Homo sapiens: one gene and its partners. The protein of the gene in region 1 purifies or fractionates together with the protein of each later gene. This does not show direct contact. Each region holds a gene or a part of one and is shown in the gene's direction. Other genes may lie near its edges.

What was found.
Region 2: the proteins of FBXW8 (region 1) and OBSL1 purify together in Homo sapiens (affinity purification with mass spectrometry; 2 studies listed by BioGRID and IntAct, with this or other methods). This does not show direct contact.
Region 3: the proteins of FBXW8 (region 1) and CCT3 purify together in Homo sapiens (affinity purification with mass spectrometry; 3 studies listed by BioGRID and IntAct, with this or other methods). This does not show direct contact.

What each region holds. Positions count from the first base shown.
Region 1 is NC_000012.12:117,016,901-117,027,318, forward strand, and holds part of FBXW8 (F-box/WD repeat-containing protein 8), read left to right. Parts: intron 1-7,246; coding exon 7,247-7,420; intron 7,421-10,418. UniProt on the Homo sapiens protein: Substrate-recognition component of the Cul7-RING(FBXW8) ubiquitin ligase complex, which mediates the ubiquitination and subsequent proteasomal degradation of target proteins.
Region 2 is NC_000002.12:219,552,912-219,563,329, reverse strand, and holds part of OBSL1 (obscurin-like protein 1 isoform 1 precursor), read left to right. Parts: intron 1-655; coding exon 656-928; intron 929-1,321; coding exon of another isoform or gene 1,322-1,446; exon of another isoform or gene 1,447-1,608; intron 1,609-3,832; coding exon 3,833-4,105; intron 4,106-4,870; coding exon 4,871-5,146; intron 5,147-5,219; coding exon 5,220-5,507; intron 5,508-5,711; coding exon 5,712-5,987; intron 5,988-6,606; coding exon 6,607-6,876; intron 6,877-7,037; coding exon 7,038-7,310; coding exon of another isoform or gene 7,311-7,333; exon of another isoform or gene 7,334-8,181; intron 8,182-8,589; coding exon 8,590-8,856; intron 8,857-9,643; coding exon 9,644-9,756; intron 9,757-10,305; coding exon 10,306-10,418. UniProt on the Homo sapiens protein: Core component of the 3M complex, a complex required to regulate microtubule dynamics and genome integrity. It is unclear how the 3M complex regulates microtubules, it could act by controlling the level of a microtubule stabilizer.
Region 3 is NC_000001.11:156,314,293-156,321,292, reverse strand, and holds part of CCT3 (T-complex protein 1 subunit gamma), read left to right. Parts: intron 1-267; coding exon 268-454; intron 455-2,275; coding exon 2,276-2,425; intron 2,426-3,745; coding exon 3,746-3,878; intron 3,879-4,045; coding exon 4,046-4,127; intron 4,128-7,000. UniProt on the Homo sapiens protein: Component of the chaperonin-containing T-complex (TRiC), a molecular chaperone complex that assists the folding of actin, tubulin and other proteins upon ATP hydrolysis.

The sequences.
Region 1 (10,418 bases):
ATTCAATTGTCTTGGCACCACTGTTGAAAATCAATGGACTGTAACTTTGAGGGGTTATTCCGGACTCTCAGTTCTGTTCTGTTGATCTGTATGTCTGTGTTCTGGCACTACCACGCTGTACAGCTTTTTGATTACAATACCTCACCCTTTCTAAAATAAGTAATGTAACAGTAAACTTCCAAATGTCAGGCATGTTGAATAGTGTCACTGTATATGAAAGTAACAGTATGGATGTAGGAAATACTCATGACTTAGTTAATAACTAAATGTTTTAGTATTTCCAACTTGGGACCATGTGCCCTTTTCTTGGCATTATATACATTATCATCTTTGTCCACTGAATGGACTTGTTATGGATCTCAGAATTTTGGGTCTAGTAGACCTCTTCAAGACCATCTAATGCCGGTCCAGAAAGGTTCAGTGACCAGTCAGTCCGAAGGGCTTGTTAATCTTGGCCACATAGAATTTTATGTTCTCTATACAGAGAACTCTAAACTTCAGAGATACAGCCTTAAAATACAGAGAGCACTAAGCTTAGGCTAGCTGCATTAAACTGGCAGTTCTACCTGAAAATACACTTTTTTCTAGTTGCCGTTTAAAATGAATCTTTCACCAAAGGCCATTGTCAGTGCTTTGTAGATAAAGCTATTGATTTTGGCATATAAGGTTATATTTAAAATCCTCTTTAATATTTAATAGCCCAGGTTCAGTGAGAGCAAACAGAATCATGTATTGATTTCTTTAAAAAAATACTATTTTTAAAATTAATTTGGTCATAAAAAAAGCCTACATTGTAATACCTTATTGCTTGTTCTCTTTGTTTTCTGGGTAGAAATATTAGCAGAAGGTCAGGTCCTCCTTAATGAAACTGCCGAGCCAGACACTGAATAGGCTTCAGCTTGCCATCAGCTACGGTGTTCCTCATTATCATATGGGAGTATTTAATCCAAGCCAATAGGAAGCACGCCCTGAGTTGTGACCCCCCAATTACAGAGTCTCAGTGCTTGCTTCTTGCCCTGACAAATATAAAGTTGTGTGCTGTGCTCGTGCTACTGCTGCCTGCTGTTAGAGAGAGAGTGATTGGGGCGTAAATGTTGCATTTGCTCCATCTGCAAGTGTTATAATAAGTTATTCAGAGCTCTTAACACAGGACCAACCAGAGCGTGCCTCCCTCTCGGTTCCAGCACGTTTTCCTGCCCATCAGATGGATGCTCCTCTGTTGGAGTCTTTGGAAGGTTCTGGTGTCTTTTGTTTTAATTGGTGGGCTACCGCCGACTCCTATGGTGTGATTTTCATTAGAGAGGGGCTGGAGAGAGGGAGTGTTGGAACTGTCCTCCAAGCCCAACCATGAATATTAAACATAATACAATTACAGCTTTCAGACCAATTATTTTTCCTTTCAATGGGCAAAGTTGATGAAATACTCGCTAGATGGGGATTCACAATATCTACCATTGGCTCCTCTTTGTCCCTGGAATCGGTTGTCTTGGCATATTCTGGTGCCCATTTGCTGTGCTACCTGTTTCCCAGCGTCGAGTATTTGGTTTGAGTGCTGAGCTGACGACGGGCTTTGCCAAGGCGCACGGCATTCGGGCCTGTGCTGCGCGCTGTCAGATGTCCGAGGCAGATACCTGTTTCTTCATGTGAATCTGAATGGCTTGGGTGGACTTAGCACACTGTGCTGTCTGCTGTTTCTGTCGACGAGAAGCCAGAGTGGTGCTTCTCTAAGGAGATGTCAGAAAAATGTTTTTCCTTTTTCCCAGGGGGGAGAAATTCAAGGCTGGTTTGGCCTATTTTTTTTTCCTTAGTGATATAAAATACACTGAGGCCGCATCTTTTGGTTTATTTGTTTATTTTGTTTGGAGCCATCCATGCTGGTATCTAAATACAATAGGAAAACAGATGGCAAACTTTGAACTTCTGGACCAAATTTGTGTTTGCCTTTGTCTCCTTAACAGCCAAACTGTAAATTATGGAGTATAAATATTCAACAGAGGAGCTCTTTATGGAAATCACCATAGCTGAATAGACTCTGATTAACCAAATATGCACTGAAAAGTACTTGGTAAACACTTCCGCTCCCCCTTTCCCCAATCCTTTTCAAGTTCCCATTATGGACTAAGGTTAGAGTTCTCTTTACAGCATTTATACTTTTTCTCTTCTCTTACCTACGCATGCCTAAGGATAGGTGTCTGTAAACGTGACAGAGAGAGACCTTTGTTTACAAAGTCATCTTCAAGCTCTCTCTGCATCTTTCTGCTCCCAGATCCCTCACTGGCAAGTCAGGGACTGAGCAGCATTTGTAGCAACGGACCTATTATGTATCATCTATACATTATCATCTGTGTCCACTGGATGGACTTGTTATGGATCTCAGAATTTTGGATCTAGCAGACCTCTTCAAGACCATCTAATGCTGGTCCAGAAAGGTTCAGTGGCCAGTCCGAAGGGCTTGTTAATGTTGGCCACATAGAATTTTATGTTCTCTATACAGAGAACTCTCAACTTGTCCCTGGAATCGGTTGTCTTGGCATATTCTGGTGCCCATTTGCTGTGCTACCTGTTTCCCAGCGTTGAGTATATCTATTCACTTGGGTTGCCTTGTCAGTTACATGGCCTAGCAGGAAGAAGAAACAGTCTCTCCTCTGTGTCCTAAAACGACGTGTTGTTCCATCCTGTTTTATTTCACCTTTTCTAAGAAATAGATGAAAGTATTATTTTTTAATTATGAAACCGAACATATGTATGGGAGTGTATATAAGGTGCGCATACAGTTTCAAGAGTAACCGAGAATGCCCGCGCATCCACCTCTCAGCTCAAGAAAGAGAGTGTGACTGTTGAAGGCCTCCCGGTCATGAATGAATTCTTGTTTTTTAAACATGGCAGCGTCCAGAATAAAACACAAAAGCCGCCTTTATTGCCCTCTTTCTTCTCCAAGGTAATTGTTGTTAATGTTTCAAGTACGTGCTTCCAGAATTTGATCTTTAAAATTGTTTGGTTTTATTTAAACAGGAAGTACGCACATTCAAAATGGGCCTCAAAAGCAGAGTAGCCTAGAGGGCGAAGCGCACCCCTCTTCCCAGCAGCCTTGTCAGCCTCCCTCATTGCGACTGCTTAAATGCTGAGCGTTCTCTGGGGGCCGCCCACACACGCACAGCCTAAATGCATGTCCCCCAGCACACACCTGTGCGCACGGCTGCCAGTCAGCCTGTGTAGTTCTGCCCCGGGTCCCACTGTATGGATGTACCATAATTGCTTTAACTAGCACTCAGTTGAAGAGCTAGTTAATCGTGTCACCTACGTCATTCCAGTTCATGACAGCTAAAATGTGTCTGATTTTTCCTGTCAGTCTAATTATCTTTCCTTAATAGGTAATGTCTTTTTCTCTCAGGCTGCTTTTAGGACCTCTTGGTCTTTGTGTTTCCCCATTTTTTAAATTATACTCTTAGATATGTATTTTGTGTTTGATTCGTGTGCATTGAGTCGGCATGCATGTCTTTCATCAGTTCGGGAAACATCAGCTGTTAGCTGTCCGCACTCTGTTTTTCTCCTTCCGGAACTTGGGGCGTGTGGTGCACCACCCCTTCTGTCCCTCATGTCTCTTATACCCCCATTCGCAGTTTTCATATTTATCTCTTTGTGCTCCATTCTTGGTAATTTCTTCACATTTTTCTTCTGATTCACGCATTCTCTGATCTGCTTCCAGCCTATCTCCCAAATTTAATTTCAGGGACTATACTTTCATGCTTTTGTATTGAAAGCAGGAGTCTCCATACTCCGCTCCCTGCCTAGGGTGGCCCTTCAGTGTGTTTGATGAAACCACGGAGCTGAGCCTGGCGCTTGCCAGCAGCCTCCCCTCCCCTGAAGTCGCAGCTCACCCTCTCCTGTCTGGTTTTCAGCTCAGGTCCTGGGGAAGTCACTTCCTACGTGAGCTCAGCAGTGCCCTTAAAAGGATTTTATCCAGCATTTTTAAGCGTTTTACAGTGGAACTGTCAACATGTTGTCTGAAACAGAAGCCTCTTTTGCAACTAAGAGCAGTGACTGGCCTTGCGTGTATGTGGACTCTTGTGTAGCTACCTCCTCGAAGTGGAATTGCCGGCTCAGAAGTGAGGTGCATGTGGTATTTGGTTGGATATTGCCAAGTCACTCCCCAGAGAAGGATTTCTGCTCGCCTCAGCTGTCTAGGAGTACCTACCTGTCCATGTCTCCCTGCCACACAGTGCCTCGTAGGGCATGTTACCAAACTTTACCTTTGCTGGGTAGATTGGTGACAAGTGGCATTGCATTGTAGTTTTACTGTGTAATTTATCTGATTACCAGCAAACTTAAACATCTTACACATGTTTAAAAGCCATTAGTATTTTTCTGTGAATTGCTTTTTCTTATCTTTTCTGTCGATTTAATAATGGGTTGTCAGTCTTTACTAATTTGAAGGCATTTATTATAAGACATTAGCCCTTTTTGTTGCAAACATTTTCCTCAGTTTATCATTGGACTGACTTTCTGATTGTTCCCCCCAATAGGAAAAAGTTAAACCCTTTTTTCACCTTCCATATTTTGTTATGTTTAGAAAGGTCTTCCTCCTTTGAATATGTTTTATAGTTTATGTTTAACTCTTTGCGCTCTCTGTAATTTGTGTAATATATGTGATTGATAGAGCTCCAAGTTGAGAAAATTATTATAGAGTATTTTGCCTCTAACTGCTGTTACAAATGGGACATTTTCTTTGATTCTATTTATTTTTAAACTAGATTTTAGCATATAAATTTATATTTGACTCTGTGTTACTGAATTCTCTGGGACTGTCCCTTCTCACTGATAAGAAGTCTACCCACTTCTTTCCGATTTTTTTTAACCTTTCATTTTTTCCTTTTGTCTAATTGTGTCTGGTTTTTAAAAAGCGATGTGAAGTAATGGTGGTGCCAGTGCCTCACTGTTTCTAAAGACCACATCTGGAATGGCTGTGACGTTTCATCCCGTTGCTTTCGGCTTCCATGGACGTGACTGCCTGGTTTTTCGTTGATTCCCCTTGTCTGTGGCATCTTGCTGTGGAGTCTGTTCCTGATGTTTCACTCGGATATGTAGTTTTCTTTGATCATGCTCTCAGGGTTAGGCTTTGGTAATAGAATGCTGGCTTCATGGAGAATTTGGAAGCTTTCCTCCTTTTCCTAGGCTGTGGAACAGTTAACTTAGCCCTGGAGGCAGCTGGTCCTTAACAGGTCTGGCCAAAGTCACTTGTTCTTTTTTTGCAGGGATTGTTGCCCCTTGCTGGCTTCCTCAGGCTGCTATTTGTTATTTTATCTACTTGGATTTTCTGTCTCCTGGGGATTCGTTTTGATAATTCTTATTTTCCCAGAAAGCCATTTACTCATCTAAGTTTTCAGATTTGGAGATTTTAAAAATTCAAGAAATAGAAATAATTTCTGAATAGATTATAGTGACTAAAGAAACTATTAAAAAAAAAAAAAAACAGGCTGGGTGCAATGGCACATGCCTGTAATCCCGGCACTTTAGGAGGCTGAGGTGGGTAGATCCCTTGGCCCAGGAGTTCGAGACCAGCCTGAGCAACACAGCAAAACCGTCTCTACTGAAAATAAAAAAAAAATTAGCCTGGTGTGGTAGCACGTGCTTGTAGTCCCAGCTATTCGGGACGCTGAGGTGGGAGGATCACCTGAGCCCAGGAAGCTGAGGCTGCAGTGAGCCATGATGGTGCCACTACACTCCAGCCTGGGTGATGGGAGTGAGGCCCTGTCTTTAAAAAAAATAATAAACAACAAAACCTATAAAAAGAAATGTGATCCATGGAGTTTGTTTTTCCAGGTCTGACCGAACACTGAGTAAACTGCCCCTTCGTTGTTTTAAGTGCTCTCAGTGAATGCTTTTGCCTTGAACTACTCTGCCTTTTCTAGCATTAAAATTGCAACATCTTTTCATCCTCCTTTACAGATGTGTTTTTCATGCATAGCATATATTTTTACTTTGTGATCCATGGGCAGCTCTTCTTGTTAATAGGAAGGTTTGTCCTGTGTGCCTCCATGGACCCAGCAGACACACCAGGTCCCACTTAAGCCATCTGTCTTCTTGTTCTGGTATTTTGCTATGCCACTTTCTTTCAGAGAGTATCCACAGGTAGTTCACTTTGAGTCCTTTTCTGTTAAAGAAAAAGAAGTCTTTCTTTATTATGCCTTCACACTTGGTAGCTAAGCTAGGTATAGAATTGTTGGTTCAAAATAATTTTCCCTCAGAACTTGGAAAATTGACGTGTGTGCGCATGCTTGCATAACTAGAGTCAGGGCACGGGACATGTTTCAGAGAATCCTGTCGCTCCACAGCTTTTGGGTCAGACGTGCGTTTTTAATCTTACATCCTTGTGCTTGTCCTGTTCCTTGCTAGATGCTGGGGTCTTTCTTTTCAGGGCAGGGACTGTCTTTTCCTTTTCGACTTGCATCACAGGGTCTCTTAAGCTCATCTTTACATTTATTAAATGTAATGAATTTGATTTACTTTTAGCCTTTGGCTTATTGTAGAAACCAAGTAGGGTGGTGTTTGTAGTGGATACGAGATTTCTGTCCCATTATCTAATTTATCCTCGTGAAAAATTCCACATACATAAAAAGTAGTTTTTAAAGAGGTTCTTAAAGAAATGGGGATTATTATAAGGCAAGTAATTATTTCAATAAGTGACTGCCCAGGGTACACACACCCTTATCCCCGCTCTGCTGTGCTTATCAAGGATAAAGGCTTTCCCTTTCTCAGTTCCAGCAAGACAGCAATGAACTTACAAAGTCAAGTGAAATACCCAAAAAGTGTTCTTTTCCTAACCGGGTCCTCACCCGGTTAGGATCTGGGGTGTCTGGCTTTGTAGCTCTTGCCTTTAACAGGTTATTTTACCAACAGCAAAATTACTGTGCTGGGCAGTACACCTACTGCTGGGACAGGCGTCTCAGGCCAACCTGCGCATGCAGTCATGCAGGTGGCTTTTCCCTGTTAAGCAGGTAAAGTGGGCAGCCACTGTCCTTGGCCTGCGTCTTTCTTGCTCCATGTGCTTTTAAACCATTCAGATGAGACCGTGTGGGTCCTCCCTGACAGTCTGTGCTTGATGTCCTTATTATCGATGTTTGTTTGCAGCTGAGGAGTTTTTCATAGCAGTGTTGTGCATAGACCAGCACCGTGGAGGGGGAGTTTGTCATTTGAAGCTTTGACTCTAACCCCATTTCCCTTCTCTGCTCTTCCTGGGCCTGTCCAGGGTGAGGATCCACGACCTCCGCAGTGGTAACATCGCCCTGTCGCTCTCCGCCCATCAGCTCAGGGTCTCTGCTGTGCAGATGGATGACTGGAAGATCGTCAGTGGAGGCGAGGAAGGCCTGGTGTCCGTGTGGGATTATCGGATGAACCAGAAGCTGTGGGAGGTGTATTCCGGGTAAGGTGCATTCTAGACACTCTTGGGAGTTCCTAGTAGGAACAGGGAAGGCAGCACTAATCAGCCTGCACCAGGCACGGTGCTAAATGCCCCCTACCCCCCGGCTTCGCCAGGTGAATCCTTACTGTGACCCTAGGAGCCAGCTGCTGTCCCAGCACCGCTCTGCAGAGGAGGAAACAGGCTTGGAAATGGCGCTGGTCAGTGGGGATGCAGTTCCTGTCTCTGACATCATTCAGATCGCCACAATTCCTACATTAGCCAGGCCCAGCTTTCTCTAAGAATGAAACTACTTTTTTGCAAGTGCTATTCTGATTATTTTAGGATTTCTCCATCTTAATAAACAGAAAAGGGAACTCAAAAACATAGGAAGCTCGCTGGGCTAGACCAGGATGTGACACCCCACCTGCCCACAGGTGGAAGGCAGGGCTGGCCCAGCTGCTGTCCTCCACTCGAGTCCGTCATGTGTAACCATGGTTCTGCCCGTTGCTTAGACTTTCCTCATGCTGTTTACAGAGAAGAGCACTTAGGACTGAAGGGGTTCAGGCTCCAACGAAGGAGGAATTTGTCATTTCCACCTTTAACACCACTATTCAAAATATAAATAAATACTATCCTAAGCACAGGCTGATGGCGTCACAGAGGTAGGTAGGTTTACGCCAGTGGCACCTAACTGGTTAAGACATTTCCAGTGAGCCTGCTTCTGACCTTCAAAGCAGCAGCCCAGCCCAGGGCTGGCTCATCAGAGCTGACTTGAGCCCACCTGCCACCACCTCTACCTGGCCCTGCAGGCCTCGAACAGGAGACCCTGCGTTTGAGACAGGTGGGGAGAAAGGCAGCCGGCCCTCTCGCTTGCTGCCCTCAGCACCACTGTGAAGAGACATTCGGCCAGACACGTGGCTCACCTGTAATCCCAGCTACTCAGGAGACTGAGGAGCTCTCAAGGCCAGGGGTTTGAGGCTGCAGTGACTGTGTCACTGTACTCCAGCCTGGGTGACAGAATGAAACCCCATCTCTACAAAACCGAGATGATTCTGGGCCAGTGGCCTCTGAGCATGACAACATAGAAGAGCAGAAACAGGGCAAGGCCCTCCCACAGGAACTAAGATTTGTTCCCCACTTACCGCAAATCAAGGTAAACCGACCTCTGAGAACACAACCTCTGAGCAGCGACATGGTCTTTATGGAAGTGCAAGGTCAGCAATTTGACAGGTGTCTCCAAGAGGCGGCAGGGTTACATGCAGAATGGGCTTCTTCCTTGGAGGGCAGTGTTGGCAAACACTGTGGCCGGCACATTTTATCAGACAGAGCCCTGGGTACTGCCTGGCCCGCCCCCTCGCTGTGGCTGTGCCTGTTGAGGGCGCCTCGGCCCTTTTTCTGAATGGTGATGCACTGAATTGCCACCAGGTGGTGCCAAACGGCAACTAAAACTCCCGCACTGAAATTCCCGGAAGCATTGCCTTTGAGGAAAACCCTGGATCAGCCATCCAGGTCCTCAGGGATGGCTGCCAGCCCCCAACTCCAGTAGATCTCATTTTTCTCTCAGCAAAGCTTCACTCCCTGGGACAGGCCACTGAGATGAAGCCTAGCTAAGGAAGGCCTTCCCCAGAGGTGTGGCCCTGTCCCAGCACTGCCTCTGTCCCTGTGCGGTCCAGGCTTGTCCCCCACGTGGTCACTGTTTTCACCAGCACAAGGCTGACAGACACATGGTCTCCTGCCCAGAACTCACTGACTTGCTCAAGGCCTCACCTGCAGTGCCTGCTGCCAGGCCCCAGTCTGGCTGTTGTTTGGTCACTGTCATGTACCTCCCGCTGTCCGCTTCAGTCTCTTCAGCCCAGGTCCTCGCCTGCCTGACAGGGTGCCGTCAGTCCTCCAGGCTGCAGGCCTCCACCAAGCCTGCCCTCCCTCCCCGGGTCTTTCTCATCCTCCAGGTCCCATGCCAGGTCCACCAACACTTTCCTTCAGTCCTCCAGGCTGCAGGCCTCCACCAAGCCTGCCCTCCCTCCCCGGGTCTTTCTCATCCTCCAGGTCCCATGCCAGGTCCACCAACACTTTCCTTCAGTCCTCCAGGCTGCAGGCCTCCACCAAGCCTGCCCTCCCTTCCCGGGTCTTTCTCATCCTCCAGGTCCCATGCCAGGTCCACCAACACTTTCCTTCTGTGGGTGTCCCAACCCCAGGGAGGCAGGGACTGCTTCCCAGCTTCCCTCACTTCCAAGAATCCTTTGCTTTAGTCAAGGAGAGCAGCCCTGGCCCAGCCCACACAGGCCTCGTCCCCTCCTGTGCACCCCTCCCAGCCCACAGCACCTCCTGCTCCTCCCAGCACTTAACTCTGGGTCACACATTCTTTGTAGCTTGTAACATCGCTCGTGCTACAGAAACAATGGTCATGTTTTCTGGGACTGCATCTTACCTTCTTCACTAGCTAGGGCTCTCCCTGGGCCAGGCATCCACCTGGATGAGACATCTTTTTAATCCAGTGTCTCCTAGCTCAGTGCCGTGACCACAGCCGGTACTGCATGAAAGTTTCAGAATGAACGCAAACCTCTGTTCAAGAGACTTGGAACCATTTTGTTCCAAGATTTTCCGAACGTGCTTTCACCACCCAGGGTACGTGTGTCATTGCAGCCCTATGAGCAGGATGTGGGGGGCACCTTCATGGATCAACAGTGAACGTGCCCCCAGTGCTCCATAGATGATGGAGAGCCTGGCTGGGAAAGCTCAAGGGACTTGCCCAGGGAGGCAGCGATGGGCCAGTCTCTGTTGCATGTGGCTGATTCGTCTGCAGTAGGGTGTGCCCTTTATGTCTGGAATGTACCAGGTTGTGGGGGCAGATGCCAGCATGCGTACGGGGCATGCAGACCTGTTTACAAAGTCATGCCCAAAGCGTGGCCTGCTCACCTGAGCTTCGGGAACTGAGGTGAGACACTGCTTCCATGGGGGCCCTGTTCCCTCTGTGAAAGAGAAGCTTAGCTTTATGGGTTCTAGAATCCCCTGCAGCTCT
Region 2 (10,418 bases), on another chromosome or scaffold:
GCACAGGGGAAGGTGCCCCTGCTCCCACTGGAACAGCTGCCACACCTTCACTCCCAGGCCACTGTTCCCCGCCCCTACTGCCCTCCCCCTGGCAGATCGGACCTCCTCCCTTTCTCCTCAAGCTATGGTCTAGTCACATTCAGGAAACGTGTTATCATAAGCACATTGGTCTTGGCTAAGGAAGCCTGGCTTTCTCTATTCTCCTGAAAACCTGTACCAAGGGAAATCTCTGGGGACAGTGAGTCTATTGCAGGGTAGGGCAGAGTCTAGGGCTGGTGGTCTCAGGCACTAGGGGGGCAAAAACATCTTGGAGGAGGAGACCCCCAGCTCCTCCCCCCAACCCTCCTCTCATCAGTTCCACCCTTCATACCGTCCCTGTCCCAACCCAGAGAATGTGGAGCGTTTCTACAGCCGAGGCTGACCCCGTGGTCCCCTCTGTGCAGCTCCTGCGCAGCAGAAAGTCTGCTGTGCTTTTGTGACAGCTGTATTCGTGTGTCTCTAGCTGTGAGTAACTGTCAGCTGCTGTGAGATTTGGTCTCAGGAAGGTCCCTCTTCAACACATGGCCTACTTTCCAGGGGTAGGGAACACAACGGGGTCAGGGAGGACGGCAGGGCACACCCCTCATGCCCGGCAGTGGCTGTCCCTGTCCTCCAGACGTCTCCTCGTGGATCGTGTATCCCAGCGGCAAGGTGTATGTGGCAGCCGTGCGCCTGGAGCGTGTGGTGCTGACCTGTGAGCTATGCCGGCCCTGGGCAGAGGTGCGCTGGACCAAGGATGGAGAGGAGGTGGTGGAGAGCCCCGCGCTGCTCCTGCAGAAGGAAGACACTGTCCGCCGCCTGGTGCTGCCCGCTGTCCAGCTCGAGGACTCCGGCGAGTACTTGTGTGAAATTGACGATGAGTCGGCCTCCTTCACTGTCACCGTCACAGGTGTGGGCCCAGCCCAGCTCCCCGGGGTCACAGAGACAGCCCTGAGCCCTGGAGGAGCTGGCCACATAGCCCCAGCTAGCACCCCGGGGAGGAGGGAGGTGTGGGCTGCAGGTGCATGTGCCAGGGTTCTTGCTGAGATGAGCCCAGGGCCCCTATTCAAGGAAACAAGCCCCTCCCCGGTGCCCAAGGCCAGGCCTAGCTCTGCTCCACAGCTCATTTACTGAGCACTTTCCCTGAATCAGGCACTGGGAGTAGCAGGTGAGTAATGCAAATACGGTCCCTATTCTGAATGAGCTGCCAGGCTAGGTGAGGAGGCAGCTGTTAACCAGGGGTCGCAAACGGGTAGTCCTGGGGCCCTGCGCATTCCACACATGTGCTTTGTTTGGTCTGCAGAGTCTTACCAAAGTCAGGACAGTTCAAATAACAATCCGGAGTTATGCGTCCTCTTGAAAAAGCCGAAGACCCGGCGGCTCTGGTCCCGCTTCCCCCCATGGCGACGAACAGCTGGCACTGAGTAGCAGCTGCCCCCATAGTTTGGGGCCCACATTCCTCTGTCCCACCTCCCTGCCATTGCTTTTTGCCTCTCCCCAGACTGCTTCAGCCGCTAACCTAACCTGGCCCCTGTGGGCATTTGAGTTTGCGACCCCTGTGTTAAACCAATAAACATGCAAATAAATGTACAGTGACACCTGGTGATAAGTACTGTGAGGGCCAAGGGCAGAGGGCTCAAGAGCACAGAGCAGGAGGGTCAGGGAGGCCTGGGAGAAAGTCACCCTTCCACACACGGGAGCCAGCAGCACGCAGACACGGCCGCTTCCCTCTAGGACTGCACAGCCTGGCAGGAAAGCCAGACGCATTCCAGGATCTTAGAGCATGGGTTGTTGAGGGCCAGTCTAGGGACCCTGGGGCTGGGAGCCACCACCCTGGCCAGGCAACAGGAAGTGCTTTCAAAGCTGATACTGGAGCTAAGTGGGGTGGGGTGTGGGGGAATATTCAAAGCGGGAGAAGCACAGGACAACTGTGGAAGTGACGGAGGTTCAGTGCCGGAGACCTCGGGGTGACGGCTCACAGCGCCCAGCCCAGTGTGTGTCTGGGGCTGGGGGTCCATAGGGCTAGGCAGCTCTGGGGGGCACAGAACCCCAGTGGCTGCACTGGAGCCCCCATCCTACTGCGGCCACAGTCCTGTCCTCTCCCAGCCCTGCCCTGAAAGTCACGCCCCATGCAGAGCTGTTTAGGGCCCCCCTGCTCCTTGCACCCCAGCTAATGCACTCTACACACACAAGCCCACAATGCCTAAGAGGCCTTCTGCACATATTCTGCCCTGTCGTAATCATCTTCACCCTCTCCCACCCAGCCATGGCCAGACAGAATGGCCACAGCCACACAAACTCCAGCCCATGCTCAGGCTCCCCACAAACACCAGTCTCTTCACAGGGAAGTTCACACAAACACCACCTCTGCTCTAGGCCAGAGCGAATCAAGTCTGACACCAAGCTGAGGTCCCGGGGCTGGGCAGCCACCCGGTCCCATCACTGCACCCTGTCCTCACCCCACTGCCCTCATCACCTTCCCCACTCCTCAGGCAGCTGCATTCTGGTCTCTCCTGGCCTTGCTCGGCCCCAGAGGACCAGCCTGCATCCCCCAGACCCTTAGAGCAAGCAAGCCCATGGGGGAGGTGGGTTGTGTGGCTCAAGGCAGGAGTCTCCGTGGAGGCTGGGGGGCTGAGTGGGAGCTTGTGGTTACCTCGGCCCATGCATGCCCCTATAAACCACCCCCAGCCCCCACCCCCCCAACCCTGGCCCCTGATTGGGAAGCTAGCAGTTCCTCAGCCCAGCCACCAGGGGGCCAGAGGCTAATGGAGCAGTAGTCGCCCCAAAACTTGAAGATTCTGGGGGGACCTGGGGGCAGCAGGGGTGTGGGCAGGCCTGGGCTCCATGCGCTGGTCACCTCTAATATTGACATGGTTCCCTTTCTGCAGAGGAGTGACCAGAACTTGGAGATGAGCTCCCAGAATCAGCATTTAGCACCCCTGGGGAACTCTCAGACAGACGTTGAATGCAAAAAGCATTACTGAGTTCCTGCAAGCCTTGGCTTGGAATTCCTGCCACTACCTGTGGGGTCTGAGCCTCCCTTTAACAGAGGGTATTTCCTCCTCCTGCCCCAGAGTGGGTGTAGCCAGCTGTGACCTTAAGGAAGTTGTATAATCACTCTGTGCCCAGTCCCTTATATGGAAAATGGGGACAAAACACTACCTTCCTCTTAGGATTGCCGTGAGAGTTAAATGTTTCAAGTGCTTGGGACTGTTCCTGGACCTTAGGAAGTGTCATATCAATGTTTGCTATTGTAGATCCACCATCCCTTATCCATGGTTCCAAAATTCCAAAACTCTCAAAATCAAAAGGCTTTTTGTAAGTTTTGTATTCCAAGTCATTTCAGGAAAACCTGAGCTTGATTGCTCTGAAGCTATTTCTATGCTTTAATTATCCTGCTGAGGGTGAATATAGCTATAGCTGTATATCTATAAGATATGAGTGTCTTATAGATATATGCTTGTATCTGTAAGATTCTGTATCTTTCAATCTATCCTGCTTAGGGTGAATGTAGTATGTGTTATACCACAGACATGTTAACGTGACCGATGAAGGGGGAGGCTCCCGTGGGGGCTGAGGAAGGTATGTGATAGATGAGAAACGCATCATTTCTGGAATCCAAAGCATTCTGGATTCTGTAACACCCTCTGGCCCCAGGGATTTCAGAGAACAAACTGTGGACCTATTATTGCTTATTATTATTTTACTTATTATTCTCATTATTATGTGGGTGATAGGGACTTCATGCTGCCGAATGGCTCCAGAGAGGCTGACGGTGAGCTTGTGACAGGCTGTGGTTGTCCCCACCCTGCAGAACCCCCAGTGCGGATCATATACCCTCGCGATGAGGTGACCTTGATCGCCGTGACCTTGGAGTGTGTGGTGCTGATGTGTGAACTGTCTCGGGAGGATGCCCCTGTGCGCTGGTACAAGGATGGGCTGGAAGTGGAGGAGAGCGAGGCCCTGGTGCTGGAGAGGGATGGGCCACGCTGCCGCCTGGTGCTACCTGCTGCTCAGCCCGAGGACGGGGGCGAGTTTGTATGTGATGCTGGAGATGACTCGGCCTTCTTCACTGTCACTGTCACAGGTGGGCAGTCTCTGCAGCACAGAGAGGAGGTAGAGAGGTAGGGGGCTAAGGGACAGACACCCACCTAGCCCCACCTCCCCCACCCCATCCCCAGCCTTCCCCTTATCCAGCTTCCTCATGTTTGGCCATCAGAATCCTGCTTAGCCACATCAGGTCAGGACCAGAGGCCTGGTGGGAGGGTGCCCAGCAATTAGAACCATTCGTTCATTCATCCATTCGTTCAATACTCATTGAGCAACTACTATGTGCTTGGCACTGTTTTAGATGCTGGGGATACAGCAGTGAACCAATAAGACTAAACCTCTTGTCTTCACAGAGTTTAAACTCTGGTGAGGGTGGACAGACAAAAAATAAAAGAGATGGTTTGTCAGGTGGTAACAAGTGCATCAGAGGCAAGGCAGGGAAAGGGGATAGGAAGTGGGGATGGGTGTGGAGTGGGGTGTGTAGATCTGGGTGTGAGTCTAGATCTGCCTCTTTCTGTCTGTGTGACCTTAGGCAAGTCAGTTTCTTCTAAAGAGGCCTCAGGTCCTCAGCCATGAAGTGCAGCCAGCAGCTGTGCACCTCTTGAGGGTGGTCAGAGTAACTGATTGAAAAAACACAGGGTTCTTAGGACAGTGCCTGGCACACAGCAGCTGCTCCATGGACTGCAGCTGGCACTGTTCTCAAGAGCTGTGCTGCCAGTGGGGAGGGCTGAGGATCTGGCGGGTGAGGCAGGAGAGGCCTGCTGGCCAAGCCTATGTGCCCCTCTCCATGCCCACCCACCAGCCCCACCAGAGAGGATTGTGCACCCGGCAGCCCGCTCCCTGGATCTGCATTTTGGGGCTCCAGGGCGCGTGGAGCTGCGCTGTGAGGTGGCCCCAGCTGGGTCTCAGGTGCGCTGGTACAAGGACGGGCTGGAAGTGGAGGCATCAGATGCCCTGCAGCTGGGTGCCGAGGGGCCCACCCGCACCCTGACCCTGCCCCACGCCCAGCCTGAGGACGCCGGGGAGTATGTGTGTGAGACCCGGCATGAGGCCATCACCTTCAATGTCATCCTGGCTGGTGGGTGCTCCTGGCCAACCCAGGGCAGGGAGGCAAGGGCAAGCATGGGATGACACCTTCCTCTCTTCTCCAGAGCCTCCAGTGCAGTTCCTTGCTCTAGAGACAACTCCAAGCCCGCTCTGTGTGGCCCCTGGGGAGCCAGTGGTGCTGAGCTGTGAACTGTCCCGGGCTGGCGCCCCCGTGGTCTGGAGCCACAATGGGAGGCCCGTGCAGGAGGGCGAGGGCCTAGAGCTCCATGCCGAGGGCCCCCGCCGAGTCCTCTGCATCCAGGCTGCAGGCCCAGCCCATGCAGGGCTCTACACCTGCCAGTCTGGAGCAGCCCCCGGAGCCCCAAGCCTCAGCTTCACCGTCCAGGTGGCTGGTGAGTACAGCCTGGGCATTAAGCCTGAGAGTGGCACCAAGCCTGAGAGTGGCACCCCAAACTCTGCGGGATTCCTGCTTTTCCAGCATGCCTTGCCCATCCCTGGCCCCACTTCTCTCAGTACCTTCCCCGTCATGCCTCCCCGTGCCCTCCTCAAAGCCCTGAGCCTCTCCCTCCCAGTGACCTCCAGCTCTGACTCCACAGAGCCCCCTGTGCGGGTGGTAGCTCCCGAGGCAGCCCAGACGAGGGTTCGGAGCACCCCAGGCGGGGACCTAGAGCTGGTGGTGCACCTCTCCGGGCCAGGGGGCCCTGTACGCTGGTACAAGGACGGGGAGCGACTGGCAAGCCAGGGGCGGGTGCAGCTGGAGCAGGCCGGGGCCAGGCAGGTGCTGCGGGTGCAGGGGGCACGGAGCGGGGACGCTGGGGAGTACCTGTGCGATGCGCCCCAGGACAGCCGCATCTTCCTTGTCAGCGTGGAAGGTAACAGTGTACCCCTCACACCCTGTGGGCTGTGGCACCCCAAGGACCATCTGCCACTTTCTAGGGCCCCCTTACTCCTCCACCCCCGCTTTGCTGCTTCTGGCTCCAACCAGTGCGTGCATGACCATCACTTGGATAGGGGCTCAGGGCTCCTCTTTCCAGAAACCCTCATGTTGAGAGCAGCATAAACCAGTGGTTAAAAGCAGGGGCTCTAGAGTCCACCCAGCCAGGTTCCAGCCTAGATTCTGTGCCCCAGTAGCTGTGTGACATTGGCCAAGTTGTTCAACCTGTCTGAGCCCCGGCTCTGAAAAGAGGGGATAGTGCTTTTCTTATAGGCCTGTTGTGACAAGTAAATGCTGTAAATAGGGTCCCTGGTAATTGATATTATTAGGGTGCCACCAAGGTGGGGTGCTAGGCTAGGATTATGAGGAACTGACTAAAAGGAGTGGCAGGGAGCTGGCATCTTGTCCTTTGGGCCATCGGTGTGGTCGATACATAGTAGGTCCTCACAGAAGGTCTGTTAAATGACTGGGGACGAGGGCCTGCATCCTGAGGAGGGGATGAAAAGGAGAGAGAAGAAAAGACTCAGCCCAGCTCACTGCCTTACCGTGCCCCTTAGAGCCACTGCTGGTGAAGCTGGTCTCGGAGCTGACACCACTCACTGTCCACGAGGGCGATGATGCCACGTTCCGGTGTGAAGTCTCCCCACCAGATGCCGATGTCACCTGGCTGCGCAATGGGGCCGTCGTCACTCCAGGGCCCCAGGTGGAGATGGCCCAGAATGGTTCAAGCCGCATCTTAACCTTGCGAGGCTGCCAACTGGGGGATGCAGGGACCGTGACTTTGCGGGCAGGGAGCACGGCCACAAGTGCCCGGCTCCATGTTCGAGGTTAGGTCCTGATGAGGATGAGATACTCTGTGTCCCGTGCCTGTACTCCCAACCAGGATTCCAGCAGCCTTGCCTCTCCACCTAGGGACAGACCAGTGGGATGGAGCAAGGGGCCAGCCTCCAACCCCACCAGACTCCATGGCCTCCTTCTTCCCCACCAGAGACAGAGCTGCTGTTCCTACGGCGGTTGCAGGATGTGCGGGCAGAGGAAGGCCAGGATGTGTGTCTCGAAGTGGAGACAGGCCGAGTGGGTGCAGCGGGGGCCGTGCGCTGGGTGCGAGGTGGGCAGCCCCTGCCCCACGACTCTCGCCTGTCCATGGCCCAGGATGGGCACATCCACCGCCTCTTCATCCATGGTGTCATACTGGCCGACCAGGGCACCTACGGCTGCGAGAGCCACCACGATCGCACCCTGGCCAGGCTCAGCGTGAGGCGTGAGTGCCCCGTCCTCTCTTAATGCATTACCCACCCTACACCACAGCCTTTTCTGGCTGTCCTGGAGTCCCTCAGGCCCCCACCAAAGTGCCCCTCATCGCTGAGAAAAGTCACCCATGGCCGTCCCAGCAGCAGCTTGCCCAAAGCAAAACTTTTCTTTTTCTAATATTTTTTATTTACCTTAGAAGTCCATGTGGATTTTGCATTCCATTGCATATTTCCAAGTCGGCTTTGCTATAAACACAAATATTCTCCAGAAAGACTTGCCATGGGCATCCTTCAGGCATGTATTCTAGGGATACACATACCCACTTAAGTAGCAGGGATGGCTGTCAAACAGCACCCCACACCTCCCACCCAAAGCTGGAGCCCTCTGTTTCCTATGTGACCTCATGCAAGTTAACCTCTTTGAGCCAAGTCTCCTTAAAAATGGGGCTGAGACCAGGTGCAGTGGCTCACGCCTATAATCCTAACACTTTGGGAGGCCAAGGCAGGAGGATCCCTTGAGGCCAGGAGTTCGAGGCCATCCTGGGCAACATAGCAAGAACCCATCTCCACAAAAAAAAATAAAAATTAGCCGGGCATGGTAGTTACTAGGGAGGCTGAGGCAGAAGGATTGCTTGAACCCAGGAGGTTGAGGCTATAGTGAGCTATGATCATGTCACGGCATTCCAGCCTGGGTGACAGCAAGACCCTGTCTCAAATTTTAAAAATGGGGTTGATCCCCGTCTCAAGTGTCTCTGGGAACATTAACTGAGATAACATGAAAATTCTTACACAGAGCTTGGTGAATGGTTGTCATTTGTGACACATCTCTTCTAACTTATTTCATTCAAGAAATCATCACAATAAACCTGTGTCCCAATGTTATTCACCTTGTACAGCTGGGGCAACTGGGGTCCAGAGAGGTCAGGCCATTTGCCAAAGATCACATAGCACACAAACTATGTGGTAGAGCGAGGTTCCATTCCTAGTGTGTCTGACTCCAAATTCCGTGCTCCTTCAAGTGTCACAGCACCCCTCACCCAGACTCCACGACCCCCTAACCACACTTCTCCCCCTTCCTGTGCCCTCATCTCCTAACCCTGATACAGCCCTCCCCCCGCCAAATCTGTCCACCGTGCTCCTTTCTTCCTGCACCCTGGTTCCGAACTTTTTTGGTCAGGACCTTAGGTTGGGTGTTCAGGGGTGTAGGCAGGGCCAAGGGATGAGGATTGACTGCAACCCCTGCCCAGAGCTGGAGGCCTCATCCTCCCTCTCTCCATCTCCCCCGGCCAGCGAGGCAGCTGAGGGTGCTGCGGCCTCTGGAGGACGTGACCATCAGTGAGGGGGGCAGTGCCACCTTCCAGCTGGAGCTGTCCCAGGAAGGTGTGACCGGGGAGTGGGCCCGGGGTGGAGTACAGCTGTATCCAGGACCCAAGTGTCACATCCACTCGGACGGCCACCGTCACCGACTGGTACTCAATGGCCTGGGCCTGGCCGACTCAGGCTGTGTCTCCTTCACAGCGGATTCCCTGCGCTGCGCAGCCAGACTCATTGTGAGAGGTGTGGCCTCCAGGACCACAGCCTGCCTGCTGACCTGTGTGGCCCTACTTACCCCAGGCATGAATACTGACCCCCAACTCGTGTGACCCCCACTGACCATGCCTGTCTCAGTGTGGCCCTCATTGACATCCCTGCCAGAGTGTGATCCCCCTGACTCATAGGCCCTGTGTGGCCCCAGAGTCCTCTGCCTGGGTGTGGCCCCTGACTGCCCAAGGCTCAGCCAACCACTGACTCTGCTACCAAGAGCATGCCTTTGCCATTGTGGTCACTGCTGTCTGCCCGCCTGCACACCACCCCACTGACCACTCTAACTGTGACCCTACTGGCTACACTGTCTGCCGTGGCTCCCTCTGCCCGCCTAAGTGTGGGCCCCGTGACCACTCCAGTCCCTTGAATCCACTGACTGCCTACGGGCGACATCACTAGCAAGTCTGCTTGAGTGTCCCCCATTTTTACTTCCAGTCCCAGGATGTTCCCACTGACCACTCCACTGGCATCTCTGCTTGTTTCCCCATTGCCCTCTGGCCCCCAGCTTCTCCCCCACTGACCACCTTAAAGTGTGACTCCCAGTTGGCCACTCCTAACCCATTGGCCCTGTGGCCCTGCCCACCTACATCCCCCCCACCCCCACCACTGACAGATCCTTCTTGGACCACTTGTCCCAGCTCGAACCCCACTCGCTAGTGTCCTCTACTGCCTGTTGTGCCCAAGTGTATGTCCTCCTTGTCCCTGCAAGATGGGTCCCCATCCTGCTCCCTCTGCACTGTCCTCCCTCTCCCACCCCCAGAGGTCCCAGTGACCATCGTGCGGGGGCCACACGACCTAGAGGTGACCGAGGGCGACACAGCTACGTTCGAGTGCGAGCTTTCCCAAGCTTTGGCTGATGTTACCTGGGAGAAGGTCAGATCCCAGCCCCAGCCAAGCCCACTTCAGTGTAACACCAACGATAATAATGCCCCAGACAGAAACAGCTAATATTCCTTGAGCGGATGTGCCTGGCACTGTGCTAAGATTTGCATTATATTTAATCCCTTACTCCAAGGACAACTCTAGGAGGTAGGTCTTGTCACTGTAATACCTATCAGGAAACTGATGCTCAGTGGGAAAAATTACCTACCCAAGGGCAGACAACAGGTAGAGCCCATATTCGAATCCAGGTTTGCCTAACTCCAGAATCCGTGCCCATGTCCCCTGTGATCGATACCTGGCTCTGGGCTTCCCGAGTGCCTTGGCGGCCCTAAGGTCCCCAAAGGGTGACGCTTTTTCAAAGAGGCTCCTGGCACGACCCCAAAGGCTTGGGGACAGTCCGACCCCAGCCTGGGAACACGAGACACGCATAAACGCGCCTCGAGACCGCTTGGCATCAACAAAGGGTGCGCCGCCTGCCAGGGCCGGGGTCGCCTGTGCCCAGCCGGGCTCGCCCCGACCCTCTGCAACTCCCGCCCCTAGGACGGGAACGCGCTTACGCCTAGCCCGCGGCTCCGGCTCCAGGCCCTCGGCACGCGCCGCCTTCTCCAGCTGCGACGCTGCGGCCCCTCGGACGCCGGGACCTACAGCTGCGC
Region 3 (7,000 bases), on another chromosome or scaffold:
CAAATTATTTTACTATAATCTTTGTATGTAAGTGTAAAGGGTTGCTCAGGGAATTAAGGCACCGTCTACAGATGAGTTGTAATCTTGCTGAAAGGCAGAGGAATGGACAAAGGTTACCTCCTAATGTCCTTTTAGTTTCCTCCAAAGGAACAAATCCCCTTGTTCTGCCTCTTGGTCCATTATTATAGTCACTGAGGTATAGATAAGGCACATCTCTACATATCTAACATGCCTTCTTCACATATCGTCTGGTTTTCTTTTCTCTAGTATCCCAGTCGACATCAGTGACAGTGATATGATGCTGAACATCATCAACAGCTCTATTACTACCAAAGCCATCAGTCGGTGGTCATCTTTGGCTTGCAACATTGCCCTGGATGCTGTCAAGATGGTACAGTTTGAGGAGAATGGTCGGAAAGAGATTGACATAAAAAAATATGCAAGAGTGGAAAAGGTAAACTTTCAAAGTGTATACATTGGGTCAAATTATATGTTAGCATGAGTCATCTCACTTGTGAGGAAATAGTCTGTTTTTCATGCCGTTGTTTTGTTTTGTTTTTGAGACAGAGTCTCACCTTGTTGCCTAGGCTGGAGTATAGTGGCACAGTCACAGCCCACTGCAGCCTCAAACTCCTGGCCTCAAGCAAATCCTCTGATTTGCTAGGACTACAGGCACATGCCACTGTGCCCAGCAAATTTTTTTTCTTTTTGTAGAGATGAGGGTCTCATGTTGCCCAGGCTGGTCTTGAACTCCTGGCCTCAAGTGATCTTCCCACCTCAGGCTCTCAAAGTGCTGGGATTATAGGCATAAGCCATCATACCCTACTTGAATGAAATAGTTTTAAATCAGAGCAAGGTATGTTTTTTGTTTGTTTGTTTTTTTGAGATGGAGTCTTGCTCTGTCGCGCAGAGGCTAGAGTGCAGTGGTGCGATCTCGGCTCACTGTAGCCTCCACCTCCCGGGTTCGAGTGATCTCCTGCCTCAGCCTTTAAAATAGTTGGGATTACAGATGCCTGCCACCACGCCCAGCTAATTTCTTTTTGTATTTTAAGTAGAGACGGGGTTTCACCATGTTAGCCAGGATGGTCTCGAACTCCTGACCTCAGTGATCTGCCCACCTTTGCCTCACAAAGTGCTGGGATTATAGGGTGAGCCACTGCGCCTGACCAAAGCAAGGTATCTTTAGTTAGAACTAGGAAGAACTATACTTGCTGCCTGGAAACAAAAACCTATAAGAGGCTACCAAGTAGGAATTTCTTCAAATAGTTTTGTTGTTACCTTCACTGCTATCCCTACACAAGGTTTATGAGGACAAGGGACAGGCTTATTGGTGTCTCCATGTTTGTGTATTTGCATACATCAGTCATTTGGTCAGGATATAAGCTTAACAAGGGCTCTATTATGTAGTGCTATTAAAATAGTAAGCCCCAGAAAGCTTTCTCTCCTGTCCACTAAATTTCATTAAGATCCAAAAGTTTAGTAGTATAGCTTGTGGCCAGTAGATGGAGCCCCAAGCCTAAAATTCTCTGGCAATATATTTATTTTTTTAATTGGAGAGACCTAAGCCCTTATTTATTTATTTAAATAGCAATTGGGTCTCAATGTGTTGCCCAGGCTGGTCTCGAACTCCCGGCCTCAAGGGATCCTCCTGCCTGAGCCTCTTGAGTAGCTGGGATTTTAGGTGTGAACCACTGTGCCTGGCTCATAAGCCCCTCTAAGTCTTTTGTCAAGTCATTGAATTTCAGTGAGTCTCAGCAGACCTTCAAGTTGAGTGTCATGGTCTAAAATTGGTGTATTTCCTAATGGGAAAAAAATGTGATTCCAATAATATTTTTGAGCTTCATCAAAGAAAGGTACTTTAGAAACCTGAAACACTGGGCCGGGCGTGGTGGCTCATGCCTGTAATCCCAGCACTTTGGGAGGCCGAGGCGGGCGGATCACGAGGTCAGGAGATCGAGACCATCCTGGCTAACATGGTGAAACCCCATCTCTAGTAAAATACAAAAAAAAAAATTAGCCGGGTGTGGTGGCGGGCGCCTGTAGTCCCAGCTACTTGGGAGTCTGAGGCAGGAGAATGGCGTGAACCCGGGAGGCGGAGCTTGCAGTGAGCCGAGATTGCACCACTGCACTCCAGCCTGAGCGACAGAGCGAGACTCCATCTCAAAAAAAAAAAAAAACCTGAAACACTAGCTGTTTGGGAAAGATGAACATCTGGGAAGGAAATTAAGAAATTGTCTCTTGATTGTGGATTAAAGTGCAGTTGTCTTTTGTTCAGATACCTGGAGGCATCATTGAAGACTCCTGTGTCTTGCGTGGAGTCATGATTAACAAGGATGTGACCCATCCACGTATGCGGCGCTATATCAAGAACCCTCGCATTGTGCTGCTGGATTCTTCTCTGGAATACAAGAAAGGAGAAAGCCAGGTAAGGTTCTTGGCCTTGTTCCTTAAAGTAGATGCAAGAATCTGACTGCAAATATGAACAACAGAAATAAAACGTATGTTTATTGCATGCCTTCTGGGTGCATAGTGTACACTGACTCTTAGAACAATCCTTTAGAATAGTTGGTATTGATTTCATTTTACAGATGAGGGATCTGAAGCTCAAACAAGTTAGGTTAATTGCTTGAGGAATACAGCTAGTATTGGCCAAAATCAAGATTTGAACCTGGTTGTGTTTGGCTTGTTTTATACGATCATGCTGCCTTTCCTAATGCACCAGGGGAACATAAGGTAGGAGTTAATTCAGCTTTGAAGTACTAAAGGAGAATTTCAGCTTAATGCAGTGGCTCACACCTATAATTCTAGCACTTTGGGAGGCTAAGGCAGGTGGATGGCTCGAGCCCAGGAGTTCAAGACCAGCCTAGGCAACATGTCGAATACTGTCTTTATTTAAAAAAAATTAATTGGGCGTGGTGGCATGTGCCTGTAGTCCCCACTACTTGGGAGGCTGAGGTGAGAGGATTGCTTGAACCCAGAAGGTCAAGGGTGCAAGGAGCTGTGATCACGCCACTGAACTCCAGCCTGAGCAACAGTGAGACCCTGTCTCAAAAAAAAAAAAAAAAAAATTCTAGAGGGCAGGAGGCTCACAAGGCTCCATCACATTTGGAAAGAATAAGAATCAATTAGTGGGAAGAATTAAGACCCAGGATTTTCCTGCACACTGCCAGGACAGATGTAGGATTGGACTGGGTGGTCAGAGACCTTAGAAAGGCCAAACTCAACACTAATTACTGTGTGACTTTCAGTTCTGGTTGTTTTATAATGATATAACTGGAGCTGGCCGGGCGTGGTGGCTCACGCCTGTAATCCCAGCACTTTGGGAGGCAGAGGCGGGCGGATCACGAAGTCAGAAGATCGAGACCATCCTGGCTAACGTGGTGAAACCCCGTCTCTACTAAAAATACAAAAAAAAAGTTAGCTGGGGGTGGTGGCAGGCACCTGTAGTCCCAGCTACTCGGGAGGCTGAGGCAGGAGAATCGCTTGAACCCAGGAGGCAGAGCTTGCAGTGAGCCAAGATCGCGCCATTACACTCCAGCCTGGGTGACAGAGCAAGATTCCGTCTCAAAAAAAAAAAAAAGCAAAACTAAAGCTAAATTGGCTTACAGAGGTGTTGAGGTCATGGCTTTAACATAATTCTGACTCTGAGATACGTGGGAGAGGTGGGTGGAAGGAGTATAATATGACCCTTAGAGCTTCACCAGTCCAGGGATTTTAAAATCAGTGTCTTTTCTTTACCACACAGACTGACATTGAGATTACACGAGAGGAGGACTTCACCCGAATTCTCCAGATGGAGGAAGAGTACATCCAGCAGCTCTGTGAGGACATTATCCAACTGAAGCCCGATGTGGTCATCACTGAAAAGGGCATCTCAGGTGGGACTTTGTTACTTTTTCCAGCCTACCTTTGAGGTAGACGAGGGTGGGTGATTTGTTTTCTCCCCTCATGTTTGGCAGGGGCGTAATAGTGTCATGGTTAAGAGTACTTTGATTATAAAACCAGTTCAGAACCCAGCTTGACATCTCTACTCTTGGATTTGTAGATTTAGCTCAGCACTACCTTATGCGGGCCAATATCACAGCCATCCGCAGAGTCCGGAAGACAGACAATAATCGCATTGCTAGGTGAGTAGGCCAGGTAAAAACAAGACTTTTCTTCCCGTGTGTTTCCTTTTTGTAGTTGCGTAACAGTCATCATTACCTGAAAAGGTTTAATAAAGGATATAGTAACAGGTAGAAATAACCTTGGCTTAGCTGCCTGCCCTCTTCAGAAGTCCTCTAGTCCAACAGTTATTTACTGCGTGAGTCTCATCTGTACTGCCCCTAACCATTAGTGAGCAGCTTGTGCTTAGACATTTGTAATTGCTACCTTGGTGGGTGTCCGTTACATTTCTAAATAACTGCCTATCTAAGAGGTTTTCTTTAATGTCATTATGATGATTTTTGAATGAACATTTCCAGAGTATCCTAAGTGGCCTGGATTATAGCAGAACCATCAGTTTCCTCAGCTACATCCTTAGCTGCGATTTATGCGATTCTAGATTGCATTCACTACTTCTGCACTGATGTCTGTGCTCATAGACCATTCTTTTTAATAGACAAGGTCTTGCTGTGTTACCTAGGCCTGTCTCAAACTCCTGGGCTCAAGCAGTCATCCTGTTGTCAGCCTTTCCAGTACCTGAAACTATTGGCATGCGCCACCATGCCCAGCAAAGTTCATTCATTTTTAATTTATCAAAAAGCTGACAAATCTACCCCAACATAATATATCACAGATCCAAATCATATTTTATACTTTTATACCCCAAAGGGTATTAACATGCATACACATAGTTGACTTCACATGGCCATGAGTTGGAGGGAGTGACAAGCAATTAGTCCTACATTCATTAAACTTCGGTCAGACGTATGCAGTCATCCCTTGATATCCACAGGGCATTGGTTCTAGGATCCCCGCCCCCTTGAATACTAAAGTTTGTGGATGCTTAACCCTTATATAAAATGGTATGGTATTTGTGTATAACCTATACACATCCTTCTATACACTTTAAATCACCTTTAGATTGCTTATAATGCCTAATATAGCATAAATGCTATATAAATAGTTGCTATACTATATTGTCTTTAAAATTTATATTATTTTTTGCCGTTGTATTATTGTCCATCCCCCCACCCCACCCCCCCTGCCATGTTATCAGTGCATGGTTGGTGGAATCTGGATGCGGGACCTGCGGATATAGAGGGCCAACTCTACTTACATGTTTATTCGCCTTCCTCCTTGCTTGACCTTTGCATCTTTGGTACAGTCTTTATTATTCGCCTGGAGACTCAACTGGGCAGTACAGGATGGGTTATATCTAGAAGTTACCATTATATAGTATAGACATGTTAATTTTTTTCTTTTATCTTTCTTTTTTGCAGGTTCTAATTCTCTAGTTGAAATATGTACATGTTAGATATGCATGAGAACTAATTTGTCCAGATTTTAGTAACCACAAAGTATATTTTGAATTCAACTATATCTGGTTATAGTAGTGATGACTAGTTGCCTTAAGTGTACAGTTGACCCTTGAACAACTTGGGGGTTAGGGGAATCAGTCCCCAAGGAGTTGAAAATCCATGTATAATTTTTTGACTCCCCCACTCCTAATAGCTGACCGTTGACCCGAACCCTTACCAATAACACAATTAACTATCACATATTTTGTATATCATATGTGTTATATACTGTATTCCCTTAAATAAAGTAAGCTAGAGAAAATGTTATTAAGAAAATCATAAGGGCAGGGCACGGTGGCTCATGCCTGTAATCCCAGCACTTTGGGAGGCCAAGGCAGGTGGATCACCTGAGGTGAGGAGTTCAAGACCAGCCTGGCCAACATGGTGAAACCCCATCTCTAATAATAATACAAAAATTAGCTAGGTGTGGTGGTGCATGCCTGTAATCCCAGCTACTCGGGAGGCTGAGGCAGGAGAATTGCTTGAACCAAGGAGGCGGAGGTTGCAGTAAGCTGAGATGGTGCCATTGCACTCCAACCTGGGCGACAAGAGTGAAAGTCCGTCTCCAAAAAAAGAAAATCATAAGGAAGAGATAACACATTTACTATGCCTTAAGTGGAAGTAGATCATCAAAAAGGTCATCATCATCTTCATGTTGAATAGGCTGTGGAGGAAGAACGGGCTGGTCTTTCTGTCTTGGGTGTCAGAGGCAGAAGAGTGGTAGAAGGGGAGGCAGGATGGGCAGGAGGCACACTCAGTGTAACTCAATGGAAATACATCGTGATTTGTCTGACTTCTGCTTTTTTGTTTCTCTAAAAATATTTCTGTATAGTACCAGTCCCTCTTCCACTGCTTCAGTTTCAGTGCCTCTATCATAGAAGGGTCCATATCATAAAAGAAGTCAAAAGCAGTCTTGAATAATCAGAAGCCTTCTGCCAGATTGTCTAATGTCAGTTTGTTTTCTGGCACTGCTGCTTCTACATCATCTTCCTCATCGTCTGGCACTGCTTTGGAAGCAGTCGTCTCCATCAAGTCATCTTCTGTTTGGTTTTTTTTGTTTTTATTTTTTATTTTTTTGAGATGGAGTTTCGCTCTTGTCGCCCACGCTGGAGTGCAGTGGCACAATCTTGGCTCACCACAACCTCCGCCTCCTGGGTTCAAACGATTCTCCTGTCTCAGCCTCCCGAGTAGCTGGGATTACAGGCGTGAGCCACCAAGCCCAGCTAATTTTGTATTTTTAGTAGAGACGGGGTTTCTCCATGTTGGTCAGGCTGGTCTTGAACTCCCGACCTCAGGTGATCCACCCACCTCAGCCTCCCAAAGTGCTGGGATTACAGGCGTGAGCCACTGCACCTGGCCTGTCATCTTGTGTTAATTCCTCTGATGTAATGTCTGTTAGCTCTTGAGTTTCTCCAAGATTCATATCTTGAAACCCTTCACCACCGCTATGCCAGTTTTTTTAGCCACATCCACAGTCTCTTTCATGATTTCCTTGATTG